4 separate regions of the Homo sapiens genome follow, and all the other regions are linked to region 2. The links come from fine-mapping of genetic effects on gene expression. A gene starts in region 2. Each other region holds a variant in brackets. All regions are shown on one strand. Distances are from middle to middle. Region 1 overlaps NIPAL3 (NIPA like domain containing 3). Region 2 holds the start of NIPAL3 (NIPA like domain containing 3). Region 3 overlaps NIPAL3 (NIPA like domain containing 3). Region 4 overlaps NIPAL3 (NIPA like domain containing 3).

Region 1 (5,000 bases), 35 kb after region 2:
ACCTGGACCACTAACAGTTCTCTGACAGGTCTGTGGCGTAGAATATTGATAGTAATTATATAGTTATTATATAGTTCCCTTGGCGTTAGGTTAAATAGCCAGTTGAGAAAGGATGAGGTAATTTTTAAAAGGTACGTGTTGAGCTCTGAAGGTTTGCCTTTATGTTTTATTTTATTTGTTTTTTTAGTTTGCCCATAAAGTGATTTTAGCTTTAAAATGTTACCTGTAAAATGCACATTAAAATCACAGTGCAATACCATCATGGCTAAAATGAAAAAGACAAAATGTAAGTGTTGACAAGAATGTAACTAGAACTGTCTTACTCTACTGGTGGGAGTGTAAATTGGTACAGCCACTGGGGAAAAACATTTGACACTAACTACCAAACTGAACATCCACATATCCTATGGAGGAATTCCACCTCTCATTTTATACTCAACAGAAATGCATACATGTGTTTCTCAAATGACATGTACGAGAATGTTCACAGCAACATTATTTTTTATAACTCCAGGCTGGAGACTCCTCAAAAGCCCCCCAGCAGTAGAATGGATAAATTGTGTTGTATTCACACAGTGGACCACTGTACACAGTGAGAACGAATGAACTGCCACTGTGCCCCACAACGCAGACGAATCTCAGAAACATCATGCTGAGTCAAAAGAGATCACACCGTATGGGTCCATTTGTATAAAGCACAAAGCTAGGCAAAGCCATCAGTGCTGTTACAGGTCAAGATAGTGTAACCCTGAGGGTGGGGTCTAGTAATCAATTTCACAAATGAGAAATTTCAGTATCTGGCTAATGTTCTCTTTCTCCATCTGGGAGCTGGTTTCATGAGTGTGTTCACTTTGGGAGAATTCCTCAAGCACTTTTTGTATGCATGTTATACTTCATTAAAGTTTTTTATTTTTTTACATTAATTGTTTTTTTAACAAAATTAAGGAAAATCATTTATTTTTTAAAGTAAAGAAAAACCAAAAATACAAACAATACCAGGTCATGGTATGTTGCAGGAGAAGCCTGTTTTTTCATGGCTGAGAACGTGTACTGTATCTTGGGCCTGTTGTTGCAATGAGTCCGTGACAGCCTCTCTTCCCCGCAGGGCGCTACGTCTTGTCCTTTGTTGGCTGCGGTTTGGCTGTCGTGGGTACCTACCTGCTGGTGACATTCGCACCCAACAGTCACGAGAAGATGACAGGCGAGAATGTCACCAGGCACCTCGTGAGCTGGCCTTTCCTTTTGTACATGGTAAGAGAAGCCTCCAGTCGTTCCCCCTGAGATGGCAGGAGGGAGATCAAGTCCTAGAAACCAGAAACGTGAATACCCAGCAATAGGGGATTCCGTGAGTTGCGGCACATTTTACCAGCATGAAAGACCGTGCTTCTGGAGAGTACACAGCTCATGGCGAAATGCTTGTTTCATTTATGTAATATCAAAACTCTACTGGTGGGAGTGTAAATTGGTACAGCCACTTGGGAAAAACATTTGACACTAATTACCAAATTGAATATCCACATATCCTATGGAGGAATTCCACCCCTCATTTTATACTCAACAGAAATGCATACATGTGTTTCTCAAATGACATGTATGAGAATGTTCACAGCAACATTATTTTTTATAACTCCAGGCTGGAGACTCCTCAAGTGCCCCCCAGCAGTAGAATGGATAAATTGTGTTGTATTCACACAGTGGATCACTGTACACAATGAGAACGAATGAACTGCCACTGTGCCCCACACAGTAATATCAAAACCATTATGATGTCAGTTTTATTTTTTAGAGGTGTGTATAGGTATGTGGTCATGTAATATACCTAGGAAGGCCTGGATGGGAAAGCAAATTCCATCAGTAGTTGGCTCTGGGAGATAGTGTTATGACTCAGTTCTTATTTCCTCTTCATCTTTATGAATTGTCCAAAATTTCTACAGTAACCATTTCAAACTTTTATGGTAAGGGGAAGAAAAAGTTAAAACTGTAAACCATTTAAGAATGTTATTTTATTTTTTTTCCCAGTATCACACTGCTGATAGAAGCCCAGGAGACACGGGAAATTTTGTCTCCTAACCCCTCCGCCAGAGCTCAGTCCTCTGCCCCAGTTCTATCCCATTTTAAGTCTATAAATCAACTGATTAAGGAAAACATCTAAAGTATGTGATAAAGCTACTGGTACGTTCTTGTTCCATGCCCTGCGCTGTGCTAAACACATTTTTATGTATCATCTCAGATTCTCTTAACCCTGTAAAGTAAATGTTCTTCCCATTTTATGGGTGAGAAAACCAGGGCTCTGAGAGGTTAGCTGACCTGCTCAGAGTTCATAAAAGCAGGGTTGGATTTGAAGGCCGGGCCCACCTGGCCTCAGGTGCCATCTTCCTTCCCCGTGGCCTGCCGACAAAGGTGTTCACTGTTTTCCTCTGACATAAACAGCCTGGTCTCTGATTGAGTCTAGAGGCCCTGGAACATCCTTTTTCCTCAGATTATCCACAAGGCAGAGGATCACTTCCCCTGAAATGGGGGCTGTGTCATTTCCCAACAGGCAGCCAGCCCCAGCATGTAGTTGGTGACAGAGCAAAAGACCGCCTCCTTGGGCAAAGCGTTACCCCAGAACAGGCCTTTCACTCAGAGGATTGAAGCCCAAGACTTCCTAAGTGCTGTGTGGCCTTAGCCAAGTCGCTTTCCTTCTCTGTTTCCCTCTCTGTAAAGTGGCAAGAATCTCTGGACTTAAAATTGCTATTGGGAGATCCAGGAAGTAGCATTTAAGTCACCCAGAAGGTGG[T/C]AGATGCTCAGTGAATGATTCTGTTGTCTTACTTCATCATGACTGGGAGGCAGTGCTGCCAGCTGGAGAGATTTGGCCAAACCAAATTCAGTCAATATTTATTGAGCGTCTGCTGTGTGCTAGACACTATGGTTATAAAAAATAAATGAGACATGCCCACAGTACTCACGGACTGTTGGGAGGCACCACATATGCACAGCCATCTCATGATATAATGTCCAGTGCTATTCCAGTGTTCATTTTAGAATCATGGAGAACGGGCCACATGTGGTGGCTCACACCTATAATCTCAGCACTTTGGGAGGCCGAGGTAGGAGGATTGCTTGAGCCCAGGAACTTGAGACCAGTGTGGGCAATGTGGCAAAACCCCGTCTCTATTTGGAAAAAAAAAAGTAAAAATTAGCCAGGTGTGGTGATGCATGCCTGTATTACCAGCTACTAAGGAGGCTAAGGTGGGAGGATAGCTTTGAGCCCTGGAGGTCAAAGCTGCAGTAAGCCATGATCACAGTACTGCACTCCAGCCTGAGTGACACAGTGAGACCCTGTCTCAAAAAAAGAAAAAGAAAAAAAAAATCATGGAGAATGGCTGAAGAATTGGGACCCCTCAAATGCAGGCACAGTGGTTGGGAATGTTGATGATTGACAGCACATCCACTTGATGAAGTATTCTGCAGCAATTAAAGATAATTATGACAACTTCACAAAACATGAAGATTGTTTATGGTAACTAAAAACAGCCCAGTACAAAATCGTGCATTGACTATAATGACAACTCGTTAAAATATGGATTCACTGGAACAAAGACAAAGAAGAAACGGGGAAATGAAAGCAGCTGTGTTTTATGGTCTCTAATTAGAAGGAATGTTTTAAATGTTTCAAAATGCCCATTAATGTTTCTGGGTTTTTTTTATACTAAATCAGCTTTGATAAGGGGTTTGGGATAGGCAAATGAGACTAAGCTGTTGTCAAAGTTTTCTGCTTTAGTTGCACTGGGCGCTAGGGCTGGCTTAACTTCTTGGGAAAGTGTTAGCAAATATCTGGGCTTTTAAGGGGTAGAAAGGAACAGTTGTTGATGCAAGGAGGGGGAGCTTCTCAAACTCGGACTTGCCATCGTCTAGTGGTAAGTTTCTACTGATAGAGCACCAGACAGTGTGGCCTAGCAGGAAAGTGCATGGGCCTGGGAGCCAGACTGTCCAGGTTTAAATTCCTCTGTGCCACGCCATCGTGGTAGTACCTGCTTCGTAGAGTTATTGTGCTGATTTAGTGAGTTTAACGTAGATAAAATGCTTAGAACACTGCCTGGCGTACAAGGAGACGTCATTTAGTGTAAGCTATGATTATGGGCCCATAAAAAGAATTCTTAACCCTACTCCACAGAGGGTTAACTAAGGTTTAGAGAAGTTAAGTGACTTACCCAAGGCCACACGACTAGTTTAGAGGCAGACCTAAGTTCCAGCCCAGGTCTCCCTGACTCCAAAGGCCTTCCTCATTCTACTCTGTGAAGCTTCACACTGGAAGCTTGGCTGGGAGCACAGGGAGTATATACTCATATTCTTTATTTATGTATTTATTTATTTTTTTGAGATGGAGCCTCGCTCTGTCTCCCAGGATGGAGTGCAGTGGCGTGATCTCAGCAATTCTCCTGCCTCAGCCTCCTGAGTAGCTGGGATTATAGGCAGATGCCACCACGCCCAGCTAATTTTTTTTTTTTTTTTTTTTGTATTTTTAGTAGAGACCGGGTTTCACCATGTTGGCCAGGCTGGTCTCGAACTCCTGACTTCAGGTGATCCACCCGCCTTGGCCTCCCAAAGTGCTAGGGTTACAGGTGTGAGCCACCGTGCCTGGCCTCACATTCTTGACCAAATAGGTTGGTGAACAAGTGTCTCCCTCTTGGACCAACCCATTGTTTTAATGGGGATGCCCATGGAGCAGTGGAGTGGGAAGAAACCATCTCAGCCTGATGCATCTTGGCCCTCCAAGAAAGAGTGGATATGAGAGCAGCACGTCACCCTCAAAGCTTCAGCCTCAGGACAACAGGGAATTCCTTCTCAGTACTAGCCAGGGATTAGAGAGATTCACTCTGTGTTTCCCTTTTCCCCTGAACGTCTAACAGTAGTTTGGGAAATGCTGAATCATAGCTCAGTCATTCCCTTTCAACCCTGTGACTCTGGTGATGGCCCAGCCCACCAGGGTCTCCCGGTCTCGCCTACTTCTGTGGTCC
Region 2 (5,000 bases):
CTCCGCGGGCGTCCCATGCGGAGGACATGGTGCGCCGTGTCCTCTTCCCCACGACCTCAGGGACCGGTCCCCCCGCCGGAACTGCTTCCTACCTGGTCCGGTCCCGGCAGCTGAATCTGGCCAGCCCAACCTCCCGGTCGCTATGGCACCCACAGGCCTAACATTCGCGAGTCCACCTTCCGCCGTCCGCGAGGTAACTCCAGCCAATGGCATCCTCTGTTTCTTTAACGTGAAAAGTTGTTGACCAATCATTAGAGGCGTTTCAAAGTCCGCAGAGAAGCCGGCCGAATTTTAGGGCTTAGGTTAATTACATCAGGGCCTGTAGCGGGGTGGGGAACTAATAAGAGGTTTATCTAGGCCATGCTTCAAAAATCTTGTGATAAACCAAAAGCCTCAGAATTTTGCTCACTCAAAAATCCTGCTTCAAGGAATATACCTAAAAGAATTAACATTCATCCAAGCCCTGTTTCTTTTTTTTTTGAGACAGAGTCTCGCTTTGTCGAGCAGGCTGTAGTGCAGTGGCGCAATCTTGGCTCACTGCAACCTCCGCCCTCCAGGTTCAAGCGATGCTCCTGCTTCAGCCTCCTGAGTAGCTGGGATTACCGGCGCTCGCCACCACGCCAGGCTATTCTTTTTGTATTTTTAGTAGAGACAGGGTTTCACCACGTTGGCCAGGCTGGTCTCGAACTCCTGACCTCAGGTGATCCACCCGCCTCGGCCTCCCAAAGTGTTGGGATTACAGGCGTGAGCCACCACGCCCGGCCCCAAGCCCTGTTTCTAACAGAAGAAAAAAAAAAAAATTGACATGGGCGACTATACAAGGGCAGCCACTTAGTATTCCAGGAGCCCCTCTTCACACGCTTCAGGGCAGGGCGGTCTCAGCGACCTTGTCACTCCCCTGCTTAAAGTCCTCCAATGGCTCGCCTTTAAATTTAGGGTGAAATCCAAGCTTTTTTTTTTTTTTTTTTTTTTTTGACAGGGTCTTGCTCTGTCGCCCAGCTGGAGTGCAGTGGCGCGATCTCGACTCGCTGCAACCTCCGCCTCCCGAGTTCAAGCGATCCTCCCGCCTCAGCCTCCTGAGTAGCTGGGACCACGGGCGCTCGCCACCACGCCCGGCTAATTTTTAAATTTTTTTGTAGAGATGGGGTCCCACTATATTGTCCAGGCTGGTCTCAAACTCCTGGGCTTAAGTGATCCTCCTGGCCTCCCAAAGTCCTGAGATTACAGGTGTGAGCCACCGCGCCGGCCCCCAAATATGTTATTTATAAACTGTCCCTGGCCCGTCCCTCAGATCGCAGGCCCAACCACGCCCCCAGAAAAATCTCTCACCAGCCCTGCTGGCCTTCGGGCAGTTTCTACAATGCACCAACTCGTTCCTCTCCCATGTTCCCAAGGAGCTTTCTCTGCCCCACGATCTGAGACTAGAACTGCCTCTTTCTCATTGTTGATGTCTAGGCCCAAATGACATTTCTTCATACGTAAAACGGGCTTCAAGTCTCACTCATGGCTGTGACGATCTGAAAGCAAATGCGTGTATATGACAACGTGTGAGCGATGAGAAGCTTGTCATCTGTAAAACTCCATGCGCATGTTAATTATCATGGCCGTGATAATTATGTACATTATAGAAACATTAACCAAGCGCTGGGCTCGTTTCAGGACCTTCAGTATTGCTGGGAGGCTTGGTATCCGACAGGTGTTCCAGGAGGGCAGGAAAGGAGAGATATGTTTGGTCCCAAGTCTCGCGAGGGCTCTGGGGAGCGCTGGGTCTTCAAGGACGTTTTGGATTTGAATACTTGGTGAGAGCGTCGGGTAGGGGAACAGCAGGAGCAAAGCCCGGAAGGTGGCTATGAGGATAAGAAGGGAGGACACCTGGCAGGCTGCTAAAACCAGGCCCACCTGCCGGGCAGGTGGAGGCGAGCAACCACCTAAGCTCTCTGGGACAGCGGGAGAGGGGGCAGGGGAGTCGCCGCACCATTCTTCCTGTGGCCGCTAGGGGGTCCCCGCTCCAGGTGAGCGCCAAGCTCTAGCCCCAGGTCGCTCCCTTATGCTTCAAGCAAGCTTTGCAGCGCAGCCAATTGCCAGGGGCTGTCCCGCCTACTCCCCGTCCTCGCAGCCACTTGCCTGCGCGAAATGCCTGCCAACTTCTGACTGGCAGGCAGTCTGGCAAATCAAATCGCGACCTTTGAAAGCAAAACACTGCAGCATCTTGGCAGCTCTGAATTGGGAAGGGATGAAGGAGGCTGTGCCTCCGGGTTGCACGAAGAGTCCGAGTCATTTCTCAGAAGGTTTTGATAGGTGGGCCTTAGAGGAGACGCCGCCGGTGAGTAGTGATTAACACCGGGAGGAAGGGGAATTGAATTTAACCTTCGTTTTTTTCTGGAAAAAGCGAAGTCACCTAACGTCCCCTAGTGTACATACCCTTCCTTCTTACTGTCACCAGCCTCGCCAACCTGGGTCCCGTTGCCTTGGAATGTTCTTTCCAGTTTTGCATCGAGGCCAAGAGGAGCGGGGGCATGGGCTACCTTACTAAAGGTGATGCCAGGCTCTACCAAACCAGGAAGTGACATGGAGTTAACTTTGCCAGAATTTCTCCTCTTCGTGCCGAGCGGCTCGGGCTTCCTGGCGGCAGCAGATGGTGGAGTTAGCAGGTGGGATGAGGGGAGGCGTTCTTGGTCTAAGCCCGCTTCTGGAACAGAGGTGCTGTCTCCTCGAGTTGTAAGTTTCCAGCTCAGTGGGACGGGACGGAAGAATGTAACCTTCTCGTGAGCCAAAGCCGAGGAACGGGAAGCTTGGCAGGGAACTGGCGCTCACCTCCAGAAGCCAGATCGTCGGGTGGTGGGAAAGAGCGTGTTTTATTGATTTGTTCAGAAAGAGGCAAATTCGAATACAGACGCTATGAGCCACGGCTGTCTCATTTGTAAAACGTGCTCTGTGGGATTGGTGAAATCCGTCATCGAGATAAACGGGGTGGGAATGGAAGCAGAGCACCTAGTGAATTCTCATTCCTTCCTTGGGTCAGTGACCACGTGCTCTAATTGTGGGGTGGTTGACAACGCAGAGGTGACTGCTTGCCTCTCGGGCATATGTAGGTCCTGAAGAAATGCTTCGAAATCAGGAAAAGAGAGTCACCAGGTGAAAAGTATGTGTCTTATAAGGGAGTACAGCTTGCAAAGGGTTCCTCCAGGCTTTCAGTCCGGACTCCCACCCAGCTGAGGGAGAGCCTTCAATCTTTGCAGGCGATGCTTCAGAGGCCTGCGAGTTCCTGAGGCAGAGAGGGAAGCTGCTTTTTAAAAGAAAAATTAAACCACAGCAATGCCAACCACCACAAACAAAAGCAAAACCAGAAAAGCACTTGGGCAAACTACTCTGAAGGATGTTAGGAGGCCTGGGTTCCCACCACTCCCTTGATTGACATGTCGCTAAGGTCTGTTGGCTTTCTCTGACCTCCTGTGGGTGGGGCTGAGTATATCTGCTTGTTGAAGCTCTGGAGTTGTGGTTGATTAGGCCTTAGAAAGGCATTCTTGACTGCGAAGGGGCCACAGTGCACCCAGTGCTTAACCAGCCTGCATTTAGTCAGTCGGTTGGTATGTATACAAGTCACTGTCAGGCTCTGGGCTAGATCTCATTTAGTCAGTTGGTTGGTATGTATAGAAGTCACTGTCAGGCTCTGGGCTAGATCTCAGCTGGGAGCAACTGAACAGGGTATTCCGCAAACACCTCACTGGAGTTTGCGCTCCTCAACTCCATGACTGCTTCATGGTTGAATGCTTCCCGGGGCCTCTCAGAGGTAGAAAGAACCCTGAGCCACTCTTAAGGCTCTTATGATTATTACAAATGCTAAAACATTTTTACAGAAATGTAACACAATAATGCTTTTCACATGTACGTGAAAGTATAGTGAACAATTATGCTTTCCACAAGATTGCAAACACATATTCATAGGGTTTTACAGGCAGGGAAGTCTAGCTATGGGATGTGAATTACCTGATAAAGTTACCCGGTGAATGCTTACATCTCATGTCTGTATATTGGATATATAACCTCGTCTGCAGGTAGTAGCAATAATTTCATCCTGAGGCCCTCTGACAAAGTGAAACCAAGCCAAATGGTTTCTGTAGCTGTCCCTATGCTAAACCTGCATTTGTTGTATCCCAGGACTGGACATGGTGTTCCCCTTATCACATATGTATGTGCTGTCCACACCATGAACCAGAATTCCTGGGCCTAGGGCCGGATAGCAGAAGGAACTGGAAGCTACAGGATACACAGGAGGCAGCTCTCTGAAGCCTCAGGGAGTGGCAGAAATTGTTTAGCTCACAGTGAGCCCTCAGTAAATATTTGTTGGATGAATGCATGAGAGAGAAAGGAATGGACAAAATAAATAATTAAACAGGAGAGAATAAAATTAATCTTAACAGCAGCTCACATTCATGGACCATTTGCTATGCCTGCATTTTACATGTATGATTTCATCAAATTCTCATGACTGCCATGTGGAGTGGGAACATTATTATCTATATTTCACAGCTGGAGAAACTGGCTGAAAAGTTAAATGACCTGGCAAAGGTAAAACAGGTAGCACATGGCACATCAAAAGCAATTTAAAACATTTTTCTATTAAAATAAACATAGACTATGCAGTAGAATACATTTCTAAAAAATGTATAAAAAGTCCTCAAAGAAAACCCTAACACTTTTAAGCAGGGTTTTGGCCATGCCTCCTAGGACACTAGAAGTATACTTTCTCTTCTCTGTTTGGTAGCAAATTTTGAGAAGTGGCACACACCTGTAATCCTAGCACTTTGGGAGGCTGAGGCAAGTGGACTGCTTGAGCCTAAGAGTTCAAGACCAGCCTGATAACATGGCGAAACCCTGTCTCTACAAAAAAATTAGCCAGGCCTTGTGGCACGCGTCTGAGGTCCCAGCTACTTGGGAGGCTGAGGGAGGATTGCTTGAGCCCAGCTTGAGGCCATGTTTGTGCCACTGCACTCCAGCTT
Region 3 (5,000 bases), 25 kb after region 2:
CCAAAACGGGGAGGGGTGGGGGTGAGAGTTGAAAAATTACCGATTGGGTACTGTGTTCACTTATTTGGGTGATGGGTTCACTAGAAACCCAAACCTCAGCATTACACAATTTACCCATGTAACACACCTGCCCATTTACCCCGACTCTAAAATAAAGTTAAATGAAAAATTAATAATAAAGGAAACAGCCTAAATATCCAGTAATAGCAAAGCAATGATATAAAATATGGCACATCCAAAAATAATGAGTTATTTGACATTTAATAAAAATGACAAATTAGGTATGCCTGACAGGGAAATGTGCTCACAATATGTTAAGTAAAAAAACAGATTATAAAACAGATGGTAATCTTATTTTTATAAAGTAAATTAACATTTCCATTGATATGTAAATTTATGGACAGAAAAATGTTTGCAGGAATAAGAACCAAAATGTTTATAGTCATTATCTCTGGGTTATAGAATTAAAAGTGACTTTTCTATTATGGTGGTGTTGTTATTGTTATTTTTTTCATTTTTTTCTCATGCTACCTTGTCTAAGATATTATTATTTTTATCTATATATATTTCCTATTTAGTCTACAATGAATATATGTTTGGTAATCATTTTAGAAAGTACAAAATTCCGTGCCAGGTAGTCTGAACCTAACTCATAGGTGATGTAAATTAACTTTTTATAAATTGAGTAATTGACAATGCCCTAAGCAAGTGAGCCAGTTAAAAGAGTTTCATTGAAACCCTCTGGGAAATTGAAGACACTATTGACAAGATAGCAAAAAGTATTCTCTGGCCTATATTTCTCTTGTAAATTCTGATTTTGGAATGTTGCTTTTCTGCACAAGATGGTGGCAAGTTAATACTTTAAAGGGAATAGCACAGCAGGTTTAGACCTTGTCAGGTCAGTGTGATCGGGCCACCAAAGTATCCAATTCAGGGCAGCATTTTGTAAACCAGCAAAGCAGCCAGATTAACCTTCAGTAGTAACATTCCAGTTGTGGGTCTGGAGTGTGGCTTTGTCACTGATATTGTTTTTCTGGTTTTGTTTTGGGGCAGCAAATGGTTGAGTGTCAGAAGTGTCCTGGGGCCCCCTGGCTTGTGCCCAAATCATGTCCACTCCTGTGAACTTTCCTTACAGGAAAACCTGATTGGCGCCCTCTTGGCGATCTTCGGGCACCTCGTGGTCAGCATTGCACTTAACCTCCAGGTAAGTTTCAGTTACCAGCACTGTCTGGGGACAGAGACACAGCAGACAAGTCAGGGTGTCTTATCCAGGTCCAGCTGCCTCCTCTCTGCAGGGCCTTGCCTACTGCATCCCTGGGCTGCACCTGGGACAATACCTTGTGGGCCGTTCCAGGATTTCTCTTGATTCAGTGGCCCCACTCCATCCCGCCCTCGCCCTCCTAGCCAGGTCCTCACTGTCTCTCCTTGGGCTTTGCAGTGACCTCCTGCTAGCTTCTCTGGCTCTGGTCTCATCCCTCTTTGCCTTGCTGCAAAGCTGCTGGAATTACCATAGTTTTGTCAAATTCAACTCTAATTACAGCACTGTTCATTACTTAAAAGCCTCAGGGATGCCCTCTACAGCTGCTGTGGATCCCCCCACTGACCTCCAAATCCCCTCGGCCTGTCTGAGTTCACAAGCAGCTGTGGTGTGTAGCAAGTTGATAGCTAATGAGCTTCTCATGGGGGCACCAAGGAGCTGGTGTTACTGGCATGCAGGCACAGTTGGGGTGTGCACTGGGGGAGCAGGACGTTAATGCCCCTGGAGGCTGCCTTCTGCCAGCAGGGGTGGGAGGCAGGGAATAAATGCCCCAGGCTCTTATCCTCTGCTAGGATGATTCTAAGGTGAGATTCACAGGGTTTTTCAGAGGGTCCCCTGTGGGACTGAGTCCCAGTTGCCCACGGGACTAATCCGCTCATGAATGCACCTTTCATCTCTGTTCCCTGCCTCACTTTCCCCTTCCCTTACTCGTGCTCCCTGGAATTATCTCATACAGACTACCTGCTCCCACATTCTTGTCTCAGGGACTGCTTCTGGGAAACCCAGATAAGACTTGGTACCTGCTAACAGGATGAATCCCACAGCACACTGGCCGGCTTCACTCCACCAGCACTGCCCAGCTTCTGCCTGCAGTGAACTGCTCTCCCTCCCTGGAGCAGGCAGGAGACTGTGATCCCTGTGGGCACACACTTGTGCCTTGTTCACCTGTACTCTATGCAT[C/G]TCAGCTCTGGGATGTGTATGTTTCTGTGTGTCGCTGAGACCACGTGGTCTCTTAGCTACTTGTCTGGTTCATTCTCTTCTTTCTCCAGGGCAGCATCTCTGGTTGTTTATCTGCTTCTGGGCAGCCCACATCATGATCCTCCCCAAATGGCAGACTTGGCCCTCTAAGTCAACATGACTTTCTAGCCTGCTTTAGTTACTGCTTCAGTTTCGATGTCCCAGGTTCACATTTCCCCCCAAAAAAGAATATTGACCATGCTTGAGCCACGTATCCACCCCAGGGAGAGCAAGGCCCACTGATACCCACACAACTGCCCAGCGAGAGCTGCTGGCATGTAGACAGGAAGGAGTGTGCCGAACACACAGTCATCCAAACGTGGGGAATCCTGGAAACTGCAGAGAGAGGGAGGAGGTCGACCCAAGGGCCAGGCCAAGTGGGATCTTTAGACTATGGCTCCCACCCTGAGACTGCATTGCCTGTGACGTGCATTAGAAATGCCTGTTTTCAGGCTCATCCACACCTCTCCGAGACTGACTCAGGATGAGGCCCAGGTGGGTATTTTGACAGAGCTTCTCAGGGGATTATAAGGATTCCCAGCCTGTTGGAGAGCTACTGTCCTAGAATTTAGATCTAGTATTTAGATCCCCACTGTCTTACTCTTCTCTGAGTCAGGACTCCACAAGAACCTGACAAGTCTTCCCAATTTATTTGCAAGTTGGGGGTGGATTTAGGGTACCTACATCATAGCATTTTTTTCCCCAAACATCTGAGCAAATTGCATTATTTCTCGGGTTTCTAGAAGTACTGCCACATCCGCCTGGCAGGCTCCAAGGATCCCCGGGCCTATTTCAAGACCAAGACATGGTGGCTGGGCCTGTTCCTGATGCTTCTGGGCGAGCTGGGTGTGTTCGCCTCCTACGCCTTCGCGCCGCTGTCACTCATCGTGCCCCTCAGCGCAGTTTCTGTGATAGGTAAGACCAGGGCTGCCCCACCCTCCCCTGGGGTGCTCCCAGCTGCGTGACCAGAGTGCCAGCGCCAGGATCAAAGGTGCCCATTGAACAAACCAGCTTTAGCTTGGATAATAATAGCCTAATACAAAGGGCTTCAGACACACCAGGCCCTGTAAGTGCTTACAGATATTAATTCTGCTAATCCTCCAGCCACCTGTTGAGGGAGATGTTGTTGTTATCCCCATTTAACAGATGAGGAAACTGAGGCACGGGGTAATGAAATTACTTTCCCCAAATGACACAGCTAGTGAGTAACAGGGCTGGGATATGAACTGGGCTGTCTGGCTCCAGGTTCTGTTTAAGATTCAGAAGGCTTATTAGAATTGCTTTTTATTTCTAAAAGAAGAAGGAAGATAAACCTTAACCCATGCATCTTTTCACCATCAAGATACATTAAGCTTGTCACTGAGTGCAGTGGCTTGTACCTGTAATCCCAGCTACTTGGGAGGCTGAAGTGGGAGGATCGCTTGAGGCCAGGAGTTTGAGACCAGCCTGGGCAACATGGAGAGACCCCATCTCTACAAAATGAAACAAACAAACAAAAAAGAAAAACAATTAGCTGGGCATGGTGGTATGCATCTGTGGTCCTAGCTACTTGGGAAACAGAAGCAGGAGGATCCCTTAAGTCCAGTGTTTGAGTGCTGCAGTGAGCTTTGATTACACAATTGCACTCCAGCCTGGGTGACAGAGCAAGACCTCATCTATTGAAAAAACAAATTAAGCTTTTGTAGGGTTTGGGGCCAGGCCAGGCTGGTCTCAAATTCTTGAGCTCAAACTATCTGCCTGCCTTTCCTCCCAAAGTGCTGGGACTACAATTGTAAGCCACCACACTGGCCATTAACTTTCTCATCTGCCAGCTTTCTGTGATTTCTGTAATCACTGAACCAGTGTTTCAGAACATTTGAACCAACTAAAAGACAAGGGAGCTTTAATGTTCATGAGAACACAAGCAAAACAGAATTAGAAAAAAAAAATTCTTCTTAAAGAAAAGATGTTAGTAGATTAGTGAACAATAGCTTTTTTTGTGTGCATAGCAGCCAGGACAATGAACTTGCTTTGAAATATTTCTTTCCATTTTGCTGGCAAGCACTACTCTGCCCAGATGCTCTGCTCTGCTCTTAAAGGAGAAAGTCATATTTTGGGTCTTATTCCTCCTTGAGTTAAGAGGTTCTCTTCTATGCAAGGGATGGCAGATGCATGGTAACTATGTGCCCCTCCCTTGCTGTGCTCAAGGCAGACATCGTTAATCAATCATGGCATTCCTTCCTAGAGAGCATAGATGGGGCCTCAGAATTCTCAGTGCTTCCAACAGTCACTACCAATCACCAGGAGTTGGCAAGGGAGCAGAAACCTATTTACTTTCCCTGATCCTGTTATAAGTCCCGGTTTTTCCTAACCAGGGTTGCTGAACTGGCAGCTTGCAAAGTGAATGAGGTCCTCAGACATGGTGTGTGTTTTTTCCCACACAGTACTTTTTTAATGTAATTTGAATGTCTTTAGCTGAGGCAAGTAGTTTGCCAGAGTCTCAGCCTTTCCCTGTTGTCTTACTTCCAGACCATTTTCTATATTTGTGTTCTGTTACTCCCCAGCCCCTGTATGTGATCATACCTGTAGCCTTATCACTCTGCTCTGCCCACTGCAGGTATCTCCAAAGGGCTCCCAAACCTTTTTCACAATGAGAAATAAGTGTCTAAGTGACTGGTGCTTTAAATATTAGTCTTCGAATTTTAATAAGGTTCAAATAACCAAATTCTTTTTTTTTTTTAAAGAG
Region 4 (5,262 bases), 56 kb after region 2:
TGGTCCTGTGAGGACTACTTGTTTGTCCACCTCCTCCACCAAAGGAATTAGGAAGTTAAGAGAAGGGGAAGAATATGGAGGATAGGAGAGGGTGATGATGCTTTAGCCCATTAAGGAAGAAAAGTTCCCCTTACTCTTACAAAAGGTGATTGCACCACTTAAAAAAGGATAGGTAGAAAATCTGGCCATTTTATGTGTTATTTTTTTCCTGCATACCAGTGCCCCCTGGAAAGATGGGGATGCTCATTTCAGAGACAGCCTCTTCACCTGTCCTCCGTCTCTCCATTACAGAGCCACAAGCCAAGCTTGAGTTACTGGTTAATTTCCTTGAAGTCAATAGAGACTCTCTGGGTCCTCATCCCCATGCATATATGTCTGGGAGAAGCAAGCATTCTCCAAAACAGGGCTGTTGCTTTCTTCCTGGCCGCATATGTGACTGTCTTCCCCTAGACTGATGGTATACTTTTGAGAGGGGCGGATAAAGGTTTGCAAACTTTAATGGGCATAAGGATCCCCTAGAAGCATATGTAAAATGCAGATTCCTGCACCCCAACTGCAGACACTGTTAAGTGGGACTGGAGTGGGGCCCACGGGTCTGCATTCTTAACTGGTACCACCAGTGATTCTGATGCGATGCTTCAATCCCGAGATTTCACATCTGGAAAGCCTAAGAATTTACAAAGATGTTCTGCTAAAACCCCCAGGGCCCCATGCAGTCTTGCTAGAAAATTTCCTCCCTAGGGTTCCTTTGGAAGGTTAAATACTCCCCATAGGATCTGTGGCATTTCTCCATCCAATGAATACTACTTAGAGCTACACTCACCACTTCCCTAGACAGCCTTTAATAGGCATGATAACAGTGTTAATAGACCAGTGTGATAGATCACTTATCTTTATGGATTGTGCTTAATACTGATTTAGTATCTTGACTCCAAAAACTGACATCTGTTGTCTGTGATAACCACTTCTGTATTGCGTCTTAACCACTTCTGTATTGTGTGGTCTTAACTGCCTAAGGCGGCAATGGGCAGTGGGCCCCTTTCCCTTAGGATGGGTATCAATTCAACAATATTTATAAGGCATTTACTGTGTGCTAAGCATTTGGAAGACCCAGGCTACAAAATAAGACATAGTTCCTGCCCTCCAGGCCAGCAGAGGGAGGCACAAATACCCAGGAATCTCTGATGGGTGTGAAGTGCGGTCGTGGGCCACAGAAAATGACCGTCATGGAGACCCTGCTAAAGGTCGGACCCTGAGCCCAAAGGGGTATTCAGAAGTGGAGATGATTTTGGCCCCACTCATAGATGGGTGGCAAATCTAAGATTTGTATAAAGCATATAAAATAGGGTGATCACCCCCGAGGCAGAGGGGCCAGCATTTGCAAAGGCACAGAGCTAAGAGGAGCTGGGCAAAGAAAGGAAAGCCAGGGAAGGTGGTGGGAGATGAGTCTCAAAGCTAAGTAGTGGAAGCTGGGCACAGTGGCTCATGCCTGCAATCCCAGCACTTTGGGAGGCCAAGGCTGGAGGATCACTTGAGCCCAGGAGTTTTATATCAGCCTGGGCAACATAGCAAGACCTCATCTCTGCTAAAAATTAAAAATAAATAAATTAGCTGGGTGTGGTGGTGCATGCCTGTGATCCTAGCTACTCAGGAGGCTGAGGTGGGAGGATCGCTAGAGCCCAGAGAGCCAAGGCTACAGTGAGCCATGATCATGCTACTGCACTCCAGCCTGGGTGACAATGAGACCATGGCTCAAAAAAAAAAAAAAAAAAAAGATAAGCAGTGGAGGCCGAATCATGGAGGGTCTTGAATACCTGGCTAAGGAGTTTAAAGTGTATCCAAGAGGACGTGGGAGCCACTGATGGTTCATGAGGAAGAGAAGGGCAGGACCAGCACTGATTGAAAAGGAGGGCTTGTTCAGTGTGGAGGAAGAATCAGAAGGGGGAATAAGTTACCTTCTCCGAGCCTGCAAGAACAAAAAACAAAAAGCAGAAATTAAAATCAGGTTTCACTGCTATTTATATATTTCTCCTTTCCCAAATGATTTTTCTAAAGCTGGGAGTGGAGG[C/T]AGGAGGGAGAAACAGAAGGTGAGCAGGGAGGCTATTTAGATGTGTCAAACCCGGGTGATCATTAATAATTTGGGCATATATATGCTCCCAAACTTACTCTGCCCCCTTCCTTCCCTTTTTTTTTTTTTTTTTTGGTATGGGCCTTTTAGGCTTGGGCCAGCCAGCTTTCTTGAGATGAGTGAATAAAAGCGTATTGTAATTTCATGTCTGCTTCAGATCATGGGGACAGTGCCACCCAGGAACTGCTGCTGAGGCCTGGGAAGCTCCCTTGCCTTCGGGTTTGGAGCAGTGGCATCATCCCACCAACCTGAGCCATGAAAGGGCTGAGCAGAAAGTTAAATGGTAGTTTCCTGACTGGAAGCCACACGTAGGTCACTTGAGTAGTCAGGAAGCACAGTGGGTGTGGAGCCATCATCTGTCTTGGGCTGGTTCCTCCCAATCTTTGTCCAGTGGTATAAATGGACTGTCTGCTGATGGCCATACGCAGCACTGGCTGTTAAGATGGGGAAGGGGTACATCAGGATTCCACTCATAGCCCTGGTTCGTTATTGTTACTCATGGCTCTGACGTCCCCAAGCCCTCTTGAATGTTGCAAGCAATGTTAAATATCACACCTCGGTCTCCTTTTGAGCAGCCCAGGTACCTAAAGCAAGGTCACCAAACTTGGGTTTAAACTTCAGTTGCCATCACAGCAGGGTTCAGGTTATGCAGTTTTTGCAGTGTGGAGTTGAACGCTGGGTAAAGAAGGGAGAGCTGACTCTCCATTGCTTTTCTAGTGGAAACCAGCCAGTTTGACGGCACGGTGCGGATACAGGACTCCATCAGGCTAGTGTTGGGGAACCAGCCCGGCAGCCTTCCATGTGAATTCCAAAGCTGTTTCAACACTGGCTGATAGGCAGACAAAAGGTTACTTGTGTGTTTCTCTGAGAAGCGGTGTAAATGAAGTCACCTTAGAATATATTCTGTGCGGATGCTTATATTTTGTTAACTTCACGACTTATGGCATGTCTTATTTAAAAAAAAAAAAGTACTAGGTGCAAATAACATTATGAAGTGGTATTTAATTAAAAATCCATGCAGTGACAGCTGAGTTCGTGTCTTATGTTTGGCTAATACTTCCTAGAATTATCTAGAACAGTACTGTCTAGTAGAACTTTCTGCGATGATGGAAGTGTTCTATGTCTATGCTGCCCAACATGGTAGCCACTCTCCACAGGTGGCTGTTGAACACTTTAAATGTGGCTAGTGCAACCAAGGAACTGAATGTTTAATTTCATCTAATTACATTTCCATATAGTTCGTATATTAACAGTACAGATCTAGAGATGCCCATTATTGCAGCTGAGGCTCACTTGAGCTTCCCCTGCAACCTTCACCGTGGTTAAAAGCACAGACTCTTGGCCAGGCACGGTGGCTCATGCCTGTAATCCCAACACTTTGGGAGGCTGAGGCAGGCAGACCACCTGAGGTCAGGAGTTTGAGACCATCCTGACCAACATGGAGAAACCCCGTCTCTGCTAAAAATATAAAATTGGCCAGGCATGGTGGCACGTGCCTGTAATCCCAGCTACTCGGGAGGCTGAGGCAAGGAGAGTCCCTTGAACCTGGGAGGTGGAGGTTGCGGTGAGCCAAGATTGCACCATTGCACTCCAGCCTGGGCAACAAGAGGGAACAAGAGTGAAACTCCATCTCAAAAAAAAAAAAAAAAAAAGCACAGACTCTCTGTCTACACTGCTTGGATTTGATTCCTCTCTCACCTGTTAGCTGTGTAGCATTGGGCAGGTTACTTAACCTGTCTGTGCTTCATCTGTGAAACAGGAATAACAGCATTATTAAGGATTGTTTTAGGATTGGATGGGTTAATAGATGTAAAGTCTTAGAACTATATTGAGCATCCCATCAAGGCATTGTATTATATTGAAACAATGGGGTTTTTTTCTCTTTATTCTTTTTTAAATTATATAATGAACACTTTTGATCTTAAGTATTTCTAAGCACATATGTCTCTTCATTCCAAGTTTCCAATTTGCAAAGGCAGGTGTAGTATGGTACCTATATATTTATTTGTACAGTCACAAAAATAAAATACAGAGTCATATATACATACTCATATATTAAGCACTTACTGTATGCCACATGATATATTAAGACCTCATATTTATATCTCATTTCTCCTTTATAAAAGTTCCATGAGGTAAATTTTAATCATATCCTTTTACAGATGAAGAAACTGAGACTGACTGGGCATGGTGGCTTATGCCTGTAATGCCACCACTTTGGGAGGCCAAGGTAGGAGGATCACTTGAGCTCAGCAATTTGAGACCAGCCTGCACAACATAGCAAGACCCCATCTCTACTAAAAAAAAAATTAAAAATTAAAATAAAAATTAGCAGGCATGGTGGTGTGTGCCAGTAGTCCCAGCTACTCAGGAGGCTGAGGTGAAAAGATTGCTTGAGCCCAGGAGACTGAGGCTGCAGTGAGCCATGATTGCACCTCTGCATTCCAGCCTGGGCAACAGAGCAAGACCCTATCTCAAAAAGAAAAGAAATTGAGACTCAGGTCTCATAGCTGGTGAACAGCAGAGCCAGTATTTGAGCCCAGGACTGCCTGACTCCAAAACCTGAGCTCTTCCCTCACTGTGCTGCCTCTCCTGGTGTGGGCAAACAGGATTTTAATGGGAGTAAGGTCTGCCATGGGTTAGGACATCACCTTTGGCCCAGTTTCAAAGGAAGGTGCAGACTTGAAGGACAGAAGCTCATTAGCTGAGTCTCTGGGGACCACGTTTGCAATGGTCCCACCTGCAAACCAGATGAGGGAATAAAATTCAGTCTACCGGCCAGGTGCGGTGGCTCACGCCTGTAATCCCAGCACTTTGGGAGGCTGAGGCAGACAGATCACAAGATCAAGAGATCAAGACCATCCTGGCCAACATGGTGAAACCCCGTCTCTAATAAATATACAAAGATTAGCTGGGCGTGGTGGTGCACGCCTGTAGTCCCAGCTGCTTGGGAGGCTGAGGCAGGAGAATCGCTTGAACCCAGGAGGCAGAGGTTGCAGTGAGCCAAGACTGTGCCATTGCACTCCAGCCTGGCCACAGAGTGAGACTCCATCTCAAAAAAAAAAAAAAAAAAAAAAAAATTCAGCCTTTCAGAGACCTGGAGGGAATTTCAGAATCATCCACAACTCTCAGAC

What was found. PIP is the estimated chance that this variant, and not a neighbour inherited with it, causes the effect.
Region 1: its variant is fine-mapped to the expression of NIPAL3 in whole blood (TOPMed, PIP above 0.99).
Region 3: its variant is fine-mapped to the expression of NIPAL3 in whole blood (TOPMed, PIP above 0.99).
Region 4: its variant is fine-mapped to the expression of NIPAL3 in blood mononuclear cells (TOPMed, PIP above 0.99).

Annotation. Positions count from the first base shown.
Region 1 is chr1:24,448,376-24,453,375 of GRCh38, forward strand. NIPAL3 (NIPA like domain containing 3) reads left to right here. Exons shown (of 12, transcript NM_020448.5): 6 at 1,106-1,251. Among named protein-coding and RNA genes, the nearest start is that of NIPAL3, 35 kb to the left of the region's middle. The variant T/C (reference allele first, on the strand shown) is at 2,780.
Region 2 is chr1:24,413,582-24,418,581 of GRCh38, forward strand. It overlaps NIPAL3 (NIPA like domain containing 3), which reads left to right and starts at 2,221. Exons shown (of 12, transcript NM_020448.5): 1 at 2,221-2,323. It overlaps STPG1 (sperm tail PG-rich repeat containing 1), which reads right to left and starts at 201. Exons shown (of 9, transcript NM_001199013.2): 1 at 93-201.
Region 3 is chr1:24,439,037-24,444,036 of GRCh38, forward strand. It overlaps NIPAL3 (NIPA like domain containing 3), which reads left to right. Exons shown (of 12, transcript NM_020448.5): 3 at 1,136-1,204; 4 at 3,019-3,190. Among named protein-coding and RNA genes, the nearest start is that of NIPAL3, 26 kb to the left of the region's middle. The variant C/G (reference allele first, on the strand shown) is at 2,219.
Region 4 is chr1:24,469,825-24,475,086 of GRCh38, forward strand. It overlaps NIPAL3 (NIPA like domain containing 3), which reads left to right. Exons shown (of 12, transcript NM_020448.5): 12 at 1-3,152. Among named protein-coding and RNA genes, the nearest start is that of RCAN3AS, 30 kb to the right of the region's middle. The variant C/T (reference allele first, on the strand shown) is at 2,069.